2 separate regions of the Homo sapiens genome follow, and region 1 is linked to region 2. The links come from fine-mapping of genetic effects on gene expression. Tissue or cell type: skeletal muscle. Region 2 holds a variant in brackets; the other region holds the start of a gene. All regions are shown on one strand. Distances are between the middles of the regions.

Evidence for each region. PIP is the estimated chance that this variant, and not a neighbour inherited with it, causes the effect. A credible set is the group of variants that fine-mapping cannot tell apart.
Region 1: SULT1C4 starts here. The variant in region 2 is the best candidate, but not a certain one, in a credible set for the expression of SULT1C4 in skeletal muscle (GTEx, PIP 0.70).

Annotation. Positions count from the first base shown.
Region 1 is chr2:108,376,041-108,381,271 of GRCh38, reverse strand. SULT1C4 (sulfotransferase family 1C member 4) reads right to left here and starts at 3,318. Exons shown (of 7, transcript NM_006588.4): 1 at 2,766-3,318. The coding sequence starts at 2,934.
Region 2 is chr2:108,844,738-108,849,968 of GRCh38, reverse strand. CCDC138 (coiled-coil domain containing 138) reads right to left here. Exons shown (of 15, transcript NM_144978.3): 12 at 3,039-3,231. It also overlaps a transcript of RANBP2 not described here. Among named protein-coding and RNA genes, the nearest start is that of CCDC138, 61 kb to the right of the region's middle. RefSeq lists a silencer at 3,740-3,940. The variant T/C (reference allele first, on the strand shown) is at 2,809.

The DNA.
Region 1 (5,231 bases), 470 kb after region 2:
TTTTAAAAAAATACTCCAATTTTGAATGGACATTAGACTGATAAATATACATTTATTTTTTTCTGTCACAACTATTAATTTGGATTGTTATTATTGTTCTATTTATTTAGCTGTATTGTCCTTAGAAAGGACATTCTCCCCAAATTGTGATCTGCTATAGAGAAATGACTACATGATTTTCAAACTCTCTTTTTCCCAGTTGCATAGCGTAGGAGACACTTAGTATTTGTTGGCTGAATGAGTGAACCATTAGGGCTTGAACTTGATATTGACCATTAGCACTTAGTATTCAATTTTTCGCCTTTCTCTGTTTCCCCCATATCTCATGGGCTGAAAGGCTGTAAAAGGCCTTCCCTAAACTCCTTTGCCACTAAGATTCTGAAGGCTATTTAGATCCCTCCAGTGAGATGCATTAGCCTGAGTTTTGGAAGGCAGTGGGGAGATAGAAGTCATCCTTCCTGAGGTGGTGGCTGCTGATAGTAGCCCCAGCAGATAGAAATTTTGCAGAGACCATTCCACGTTCCATGGCCCAGTGCCCTAGACCCAACCACTGCCACTGTGGCCATAGGTAGAATGGTATCCCCCAGCTTCAGTCTGTCTGTGTCTTGCACTGATCCTGACTGATACAGTGATATTGTGCTATCAACATAATCTTCACCCTTTGATGAAGATCTGTTGCACCAGATGTTCTGGCAAAATCCAGGTTAGGAGGATGTTGAGTTATTTTAGGATGGCTTTTTTTATTTTTTATTTTTCCAGAGACAGGGTCTTGCTCTGTTGCCCAGGCTGGAGTACAGTGGTGGGATCCTAGCTCAGTGCAGCCTCCAACTCCTGGGCTCAATGGTCCTCTTGCTTCAACCTCCCAAATAGCTAGGACTGTGAGTGCACACCACCATGCCTGGCTAATTTTTATTTTTTTTTTGTACATAGGAGTCTCCCTATGTTGCCCAGGCTGGTCTCAATCTTCTAGCCTCAAAAGATCCCCCTGTCTTGGCCTCCCAAAGTGATGGGATTACAGGTGTGAGCCACCATGCCTAGCCAGGATGGCTTTCTGAATCCTGATCTAGGTTGATCTTTCCTGTATTATCTGGCCGAAACTCTATAGATTCCTTTTCCCATATTCTCAATTTAGTGCTTTTAAAGGCCTAGAATAAGGGCATAGGTTAGAAAAAAATTAAATTACATTTTATATTTTATAGTAGTTGGTCTCCTGTATTTTCTGGCAGCAACTTTTATTACAGGACAAAGGGCCAAGATATCTTTAGCTATCCATGCAAAGAATAGTCCAGCCATTTGTACTAGTTTTATGGGAATTTATAGCCATAACACTGAATGTCTATAATGAATGAATTGAATGAATTTATAGACATGAGCCAACATGAGGGCAGATTCAAATGTTGCTAGAGGCTCCGGGGTGAGTGGAATGACTTCTCAATTTATTCTCTAGAGGCCAGTGATTCTATGATGTATTTTTTTCTTGTGTCATTCAGAGTATTATTCTTTTAAAAATTTAGGGTGAACTATTTTTGCCATCTATGCTTGTTTCTTCTTCCTTCTAATAAAATAGCCTTCATTAATGTATATGGTTTTAGTTATGATTAAATATTACTTTAGATGGCAAGTATTTAATTTTCTTAGTGTGCTTTTTGAATTGCTTAAACCTCATTAATGCCATGAAAAACCTAAATGAACCATATCTTTGTACTTGCGTTTGGCAGATAGAGAAAAGATTATTTATGTATTGAATTGATAATCAAGTGGAATTGTCAATGAAATTAAGATGATGAGATGTGATCCTCACCAGTGGCTACTTTTAGAAATTTACATTCAGAAAAATTTGATCCTGAATGGGCTCCTGATGAGTAAGATTGGGAAATCAGGACCAAAATGAAACAGATGGACAAAGAAGAGACCAAGGCCTCCATGTGCCTGCAGAATCTTCTGTCAGGATCTTGAGAGATAAGAACAAAAGAGGATTTTGAACAGTCTCAGAAAATACTGAGGTTTAGATTTTTTGATGTGTGTGTGTTTGTGTGTGTATAACAAGAGTTTTTGACAGCTTGATTTTGCAAAGAGCAAATGTATATACAATTTGTGTGTGGACCCAGTAATGTATTTCTAGTAGATATGTAGATATGCAAAAATATTTATAGAGAACTATTTCCACCTCATCATCACCCAATTTTTATGACGTGGTGGCTCGGCTTAAGCTAGTCCTACTTTTACAGACAACTTTGTTAAACTGATTGTTGAGATAAGGCAGTTGGTTCAAAACTTACCACAAAGGAAGGTGGAAATCAGAAGGATGGTTCTCAGACCCTGAGATGGGAGGGCTGCTGAGGTGATATCAGCATTGCAGAACCAAAGCTCCCCTATTTCTTTCCCAAATCAGACTCAGGATCACCTTTCTAGCTCACACACTCAAAGCAGCTTTTTACAAGATCTACAATAAGGGCCTAGATTGGGAATGAATAAATAAACAAGTCTACCCTTTTGCTCTTAACTGTTTTCACTCTCTCCTGGGAAAGTGAAAAAAAAAAAAAAAGGAAGTACATCATAGTATCATAGGAAGATTGAATTCTAAAAATTTGTATGTCATTTTAGTATGTTTCGGTATAGCTTCAGTTTCCACTAGTAACTTTCCTTAGCCATATCACTCTGTCCAGAGTTTTCCAGATCAACTTCTTTATTTCATGACTAATGCATACTTCCACTTACCTTCCTAACTCTCCTCTTCCCCTTCCCCTGCAAGCCCTTCCACCTACCTGCTTTAGGATAGGTAGAAATAAGCAGGTCATCAGGCTTGGCTTGGAAGTTCCAGATCTTATCCCAGATGTCACAGGTGTCTGTCGGTTGAAGAATTCCCTTCACGTAGTTGACACTTAAGCGCTTTGTTCCATCAAATGTAAAATCCTCCATGTCGTGTAAGGCCATTAGTGTAAGAAATCAGAGGGCTCTTCCAGACACAAAGTTATCTTCAGTCAGCATATGGCTGCGTTGTGGATAGAGGCAGCACTCTATCCACCACACTACCACACTATCCAGCCCTCTAGCACAGGCCTGTCTGGGCCAGCAAACAGGGAGAAAGTGAGTTGCAGGCCTCCCGACTCAGGTTCCAGGGAACTGGAACTCTTGTTTATGACTTTGTCCACTGGCAGTTTCCTGAGGAACTGCAGCCCCCTCCTCACCAGGCTGTGGCGTCACAGCAGAGGCGGCCACAAACCCTGCTGGCCAGCAAACAGGGAGAAAGTGAGCTGCAGGTCTCCCGACTCAGGTTCCAGGGAACTGGAGCTCTTGTTTATGAATTTGTCCACTGGCAGTTTCCTGAGGAACTGCAGCCCCCTCCTCACCAGGCTGTGACGTCACAGCAGAGGCGGTCACAAACCCTGCTGGCTGGGTCCCGTTCCAGCCCTTCCGTTCTCTGTGAGTTAACAGGACATAGTATCACATTGTTTATAGCTCTCATGTCTGTGTCCATTAAACCCTTCATAGATAATTTCAGTAATTATTCCTTCTGGGAATTTTAAACAATTAAAAAGTTGCAGGACTTGCCTGTGAAATTACAGATTCTACACAGAATGACTTCCCTGAGAGACTGCAGGGACTTTCCCGTGGGCTATTAACAGTGGGGGCCTGGATGGATCTGAATCTCCCAGTACAAACATCTGCCAGGGTCAGCTTTGTTATTTTTTAAGAGTAAAATAAATAATGCTAAACTGGAGAATTGTAGGGGTTTCATCACAGCTATGAAAACATGTATGCCTCATTTAAAGCAAAAGGGATGCAGAAAACTCCAGAGTTAACAGAAGACAGTGGCTGCCTTAGGAATCCATTCTGCCCCTGATAATCAGAAATTTCACAACTTGCTTCAGTCCCTGCCCCCGGCCTGGCCTGCACCCCAGGGCCATGCCACACTTGCTCCCCATGGCAGCACTCCTTCTGGAGATCTTGTCGGCTCTTGTGTGTCTGGCTGTCTGATTCTCTTTCTTCGTGTCCCAGCTTTGATGCCCCCTTTCTGGAGAAGCCTTCTTTGACTTTCTATGTCATCTCAAGTAGGTCCCTCCTATTTCCTTGCTCATGGCACTTTGTGTTCCTTTAGAGCAACCATTGACAGTTAGTTTTTGCGTGTTTACTTGTTGGCATTTTCTGTCTCCTTCACTACACTCTAAGGCACATGAAATGGGGCCTGTTGTTTTCTCACTGTTTGATAGCTGTATGCCTAGTGTCTGGCATTCTTCTATTTCTCGAAAGAATGAATGAGTAAAACTAAGCAAAAATTGAGGAAGCGAGTTCCTTGGGCCATCATTATGTGGGGACTAGGTGAGTATGGTGGCTGTGGCTTGACATCCTTCAGAGAGAAGTCAGGCTGCCTGTATTTGAACCCTGTGCCAAGTCCCAGTAGCTGTGGGCAATGGCAGGTTACAGAATCTTTCTCTGTTTCATATCACGCTTTTCCTCAGGTCTGAATTGGGGATCTTAACATTATCTACCTCATGGTTGTGGGGAGATAAAACAGCTTATTTAATGCTTGGCAACAGGGAAATGTTGAATAAATCATAGCTGTTAATAATAATGGGTGACTTTGTTCACCATTTCTCTGTGGCCCATGTTCTGGATGCAAACTCAGAAAAGATCAATTCTTTGGCTTTCCCTATTCCTCATCCCCTCCCTCCAGACCATGGTGAGGTGGATGGGCCCTTGAGACAGAGACTGCCAGGTGGAATGCCTGGGATGCATATGCATTTAAACAGACTTATAAAAATCACCTATAATTTTTCAGTTAGATTTTATTCTATAATCTTTTTGGCCCTGTGTGCCATCAGAGTAGAGTGGTAGATATTCAGCAATGCCTTAGCAGTTTTCTCCAGTGCGTTGTGTGCTAGAGGGGGAGGGCTGGGAGATGGGGGAGGATATGCTTCTGGACCCAAAGATGACTGACTGGGATTGAAAATAGATCCAGGGAAGATGGGAAGTTCCAAATAATTTGAAAAGTGATCTTGACTACAAACACTGCTCTTATTCTCACTTAATGTTTTTACTCAATAGTACTTTCTCATGAGGTTAGGAGAATTAAATAAATATATTTAGTGATTATAAGAATAAAGTTGGTGCTAAGTCTATATTTGACAAGCATTGCTTTGGAATTCTAAATATATGGGTTTGAATTTAAACTGCCCCCTAATAGCTGTGTAACTTTTCTAATACTTATCTCTTCTGAGCCTTTCGTTTTT
Region 2 (5,231 bases):
CCCTCCTAGCCCCAGGTCTTGTGTGCAGGCACACCCCACCTGCCTGCAGCTACTGGAGAGAACACCTGCAGTCAGAAAGTGCTCTTCTCCCTGAGACTCATCAGCATTCAGGCTTCTTTCTTGATGGCAGCAGCATGTACCTTGGCCCCAGGTAGTAGATGAACACTGGAACCCCACAGGTTTGGGCTCATAAGAAACCCTTGTGCCTAGGCTGGGAGAGGCCAGACTATAAGGAAAGGGAGAACTCTTGTATCTCTTCCTTGTTCCACAGTGATTAGTGTCAGATTTTTTTTTCTTTTTCTTTTTTGAGGCCACCAGGCTGAGGAGCCTGCAGCTTTAAAGGGTATCTGTTAGGCAGGAACCTTGTGAGAAAGAATCGTTCACAACAAGTGTGAAGGGAGACTAGAGAGTGAAGGCAGGGAGACGTGTCAGGGCCTGTCTGTGGTCTAGGGAGAGGTGATGAAGCCACTGAAAAGGTCATGGAGAGTCACCATGGGAGGCAGTATTCCTGAAATCCAGTGGCCAGGGTGTGGAGGAAAGGGATGGCACACATGTATCTAGAGGAGGCTAAGGAAAAGGGAATAGGAGTGACCATGAGCTCAGCTGGACATGCTCCTTGGATTTGTGTGTTTATAGTTTTCACCATATTTCAAAAATTTGGAGCCATTATGTCTTGAAATAGTTTTTGTCTCCCCTCTTCATAGACTCTAAGTACATAATATTAGAATATATGATTTTGTCTCAAAACTCACTGATGTTCTGTTTTCTTTTTTGTAGATTTTTTTTCTCTGTGTAATTCATTTTGGACAGTTTCTATTGCTATGTATCCCAGTTCACTAGTCGTTTGTCTGCAGTGTCTAATTCTCTCCAGTGTATTTTTAAATTTCAGGCACTGGGTTTTTCATTTGCAGAAATCTGATTGAAGTCTTTTTATCCCGTATCTTCCATGTATCCCCTTACCAGGCTCATGTTTTCCTTTACCTTCTTGAACACAGGGATATAGTTATAATAACTGCAGTAAAGACTTGTCTACTAATTCTATCATCTGTATCATATGATTTAAGATTCTATGTTCTTAAAAAAATGACTTGCACAGGGAAGCAAAGTCATTAATTCAATACATAATATGAAGTGCCAATTTTGATTCATTTCTGGACTTCCTATTCCCTTTGTCCTATTTTGATTTATTAAATAAATTATTACTCATTTTGTATCATTACATATTAGGATTGTTTTAAAGTTGGCTAAGCCTCTGCCCCAGTGTTGCTGTTTTACTTGTTATAAATCATCGCATTTGTTGCAAATTTTTCCACATAAATTTCCCTAACACTTCCTCAACTTACGCAAACTATATTAGAATTTTAACTGGTATTATACATTAAGCCATATGGGACATCTTATTTTTAAAACACTTCGTCTTCATAGGCAGGAAGAATAAAAGTTCTTTATTTCTGACATTTAACTTCAGCAATAATCTTCATCAACCTATTCATCCATCCATTATTTATCCATATTCTTATGCCCTGTTATATTTCTTTGAAAGCCCTCGATTAATACAGAGTCTCCACAAATTAACGGTCTTCTCTACTCCTTCCCAATATTCATACTTCATTTTTTCATGGCTCATTACAGATGTCCAAAACTGCTGCACACAAGTGGTGACAGAGAGCACCTAATTCCCTTCTATTTCACATAAATATCCCTTATTGCATTTTTGCTTTTCTTAGCATATTATCAGAAATGAACATTACATGTTATTAAATGATATAATGTATGTTGACATATTATTTCAAACATCTTAGTTAAATGATAAATGATTAATAATTTTTCTTATATTAAATTGGCTTCAAATTCTTGATACTAATATTATTTGATCTTTAGTGAATCTATGCTTTAATGTGTGGCTATGATGTGTCAGCTAAAATTCTTATTTAGAATCCATTTACCTGTGGGTATGTAAGCGTGTGTGTATTTTTTTTTAAGATTTGGAGATAGGTCTGTGGCGAACTTTATTTTGAGCTAATCCCTGCTTCTCGTAAGTGACCTTTCACACACTAACCACCTAGTCTATTGTAATCTTGAGAACCATAACCATAAGGAGGCAAAATAATTAAGAAGGCAGTTATATGGTTTTTTACTTTTTCATCAATTCCATACCATCGGGAGTAACTAAATGAAACATACTTCAAAGAAAGAAGTCAAATTAAATGACTGTCATTGCCCATTAATAAAAACAACAATCTGAGCTTAACAAAAAATTTAACAAACAGGGAAGACAGAAAGATGGTATATTTATTGCCTGACTACACTGGCATAACTCACTTTAACAAAAATTATCACATTTAATAATATAACCTGTTATAGCTAAATATTAAACACATATTAATTAGGGCCAACTTTGAAGGATTTCTAATTCATCCATTTCCTTATTCACTATTATATATGAAGCACTACACTAGGTGCAGGGTCATTATAAACAAGTTTTTTCTTTGGGAAACTTACAAGCTAGTGCAAGCACTGAAAAACATTTTCTGTAAAGGGCCAGATGACAGTATTATAGGCTTTGGGGGGCCATACAGTCTCTGCTGCCAACTACTCAACTCTGTCACTGTAGGGCAAAGAGTCATAGACAATATACAACAAATGAGCATGGTTGTGGGAGAAAACTTCATTTACAAAACAGGTGGTAGGCCAGATTTTGCCCATGGACTAGTTTACCAACACATTCGCTAGTGGAAAATAATTAACTAGCAATTTCAATTTGATGTGACAAATACAAATAGATGTAGGCAAAGGTTGTTATGGGAA[T/C]ATGACCTAAGACAATCAAAGGCCTCTTGGGAGGAGGCAAGAATCCAACTAAAGACTTCAATTTCTCAAATTCAGCAAATAAAAGTAGCTTTTTATAATGTGTAACCATTATAAAACAATTCAAAACCTCATTCTGAAAATGTACAACATATTTGATAAAAGAATTGCTTTAATATATGATATTCTCTATTGTTTCTCAAAATTAACCATAAGTACAATTGAAAGCTTACCTTGAGTGACTGTTTTGAGAACAATTAAGGTTGATAAAAATCTCAATGGCAAATTGGAGCTCTTAAAGAAAGCAGCTGTCTTTGGTTTATTCTCCACAGAATGCTGTGGAGAATTATCCTGAATTCCTTTAGTTACCACTCCTTTAAAAATGTCTTCACCCAATCTCCTCAATGTTGATGTCATAGTCGAGTGCTGTTAAAAATATGTACAATCTTAGTATATTTATTCATGTTCAGAATATATCTTTTTTTTTGAGACACAGTCTTGCTCTGTTGCCCAGGTTGGAATGCAGTAGCGCAATCATGGCTCACTGCAGCCTCAAACTCCTGGGCTCAAGCAATCCTCCTACCTCAGCCTCCCAAGAAGCTGGGACTACAGGCACTCACTACCACACTCAGGTTTTTTTTTTTTTTCGGTAGAGATGGGTCTCACTAAGTTGCTGAGGCTGGTCTCGAACTCTTGGGCTCAAGTGATCCTCCTACCTTGACCTCCCAAAATGCTGGGATTACAGGATCATGAGCCACTGTGCCTGGCCAATAACTATTTTAAATATTAAATCAAATATATGTATTAAAAGTAAGTGAAATCTGTGGCTAATTTAAAGTTGAAAATATGTAAAATTGGAAAGTGACAATTTTATCAACTTAAAAAATTATTTGTGACTGTACATTTTTCTAAAACATGTAAGAACATAAGATCATGCTATATTTCTGACACAGAGAAATAGCAAGGGAACAGAGGTGGACTACCTACTCTCTCAGTTGCTGATTGCTCCACCATCAATGAAAACCAGCTTATCAGGCACATCCTTCTGTGTTCACTTAAGAAATGATTATCTAGAGCCTCAGTCCCTTCAGCTAACTCTGATTTAAAAAGTCATAGTGACTCCAAAAACTTTTAGCAATTTCAAAACAGTAAAATACTGGGTTAGAATCATAGATAATTCTCATGGAGAATAAAACAAAAAAAAATGGGCAAAATAGAAATAGTAGCATGAAACTACCTCTAAAATAATATATGATCTAATGGTATTTGATATATCTATTAAGAATAAAATGAGGCTGGGCGCGGTGGCTCACGCCTGTAATCCCAACACTTTGGGACGCCGAGGCAGGCAGATCATGAGGTCAGGAGATCGAGACCATCCTGGCTAACATGGTGAAACCCCATCTCTACTAAAAATACAAAAAAATAGCCAGGCGTGGTGGCGGGTGCCCATAGTCCCAGCTACTTGGGAGGCTGAGACAGGAGAATGGTGTGAACACGGGAGGCGGAGCTTGCAGTGAGCCGAGGTCGCACCACTGCACTCCAGCCTGGGTGACAGAGCGAGACTCCATCTCAAAAAAAAAAAAAAAAAATCAAATGAAAGGAAAGCATTTCAAACTGTTGCAGATCAGAATGCTTAAACCAGATTTGGTAAAAACTTAAAATTTCCTTTATTATGACCCAATTCTCCAATCTCATGTGACTGAGTTTTTATAGCAGTTTCCCCTATCTGCATGAAAATTTGTGACCAACTGGTTCCTAACTCAGTATTGATCCTGCAATGTGGATAAGTTTTAGCTTTTAAATTTCTGCATCTAAAATTAAAAACAAATCTATTGAGGTTTTACAGGTGACAAAGGCCAAATGGTTGAGTGGTCAGACACACAAGCAGTGCAATCTAATTTAAATATATTGTCAGTACAATTTTTATATTATTAGAAAAAAAATACATGTTTTTAAACCTTTGTGTAAAAAATAGAAAAAAATGTTCAAAACTCTACTTACAATAAGTGTGTTAAATGACAGGATTAAGGTAAACTTTTTTTGTTTTTAAAATTATCTCTAATGCTTTACTACTACACTTTTATAATGAAAAAATAAACTTGAAAAAAAAATGTGGGCCAGGCACAGTGGCTCACGCCTGTAATCCCAGCACTTTGGGAAGCCAAGGCAGGCGGATCACAAGGTCAGGATATCAAGACCATTCTGGCCAACATGGTGAAACCCCGTCTCTACTAAAAATACAAAAATTAACTGGGCTTGGTGGCGTGCACCTGTAATCTCAGCTATTCAGGAGGGTGAGGCAGGAGAATCGCTTGAACCTGGGAGTCGGAGGTTGCAGTGAGCCGAGATCGTGCCACTGCTCTCCAGCCTGGATGACAGAGCAAGACTCTGTCTCAAAAAAAAAAAAAAAAATGTGGATAGTA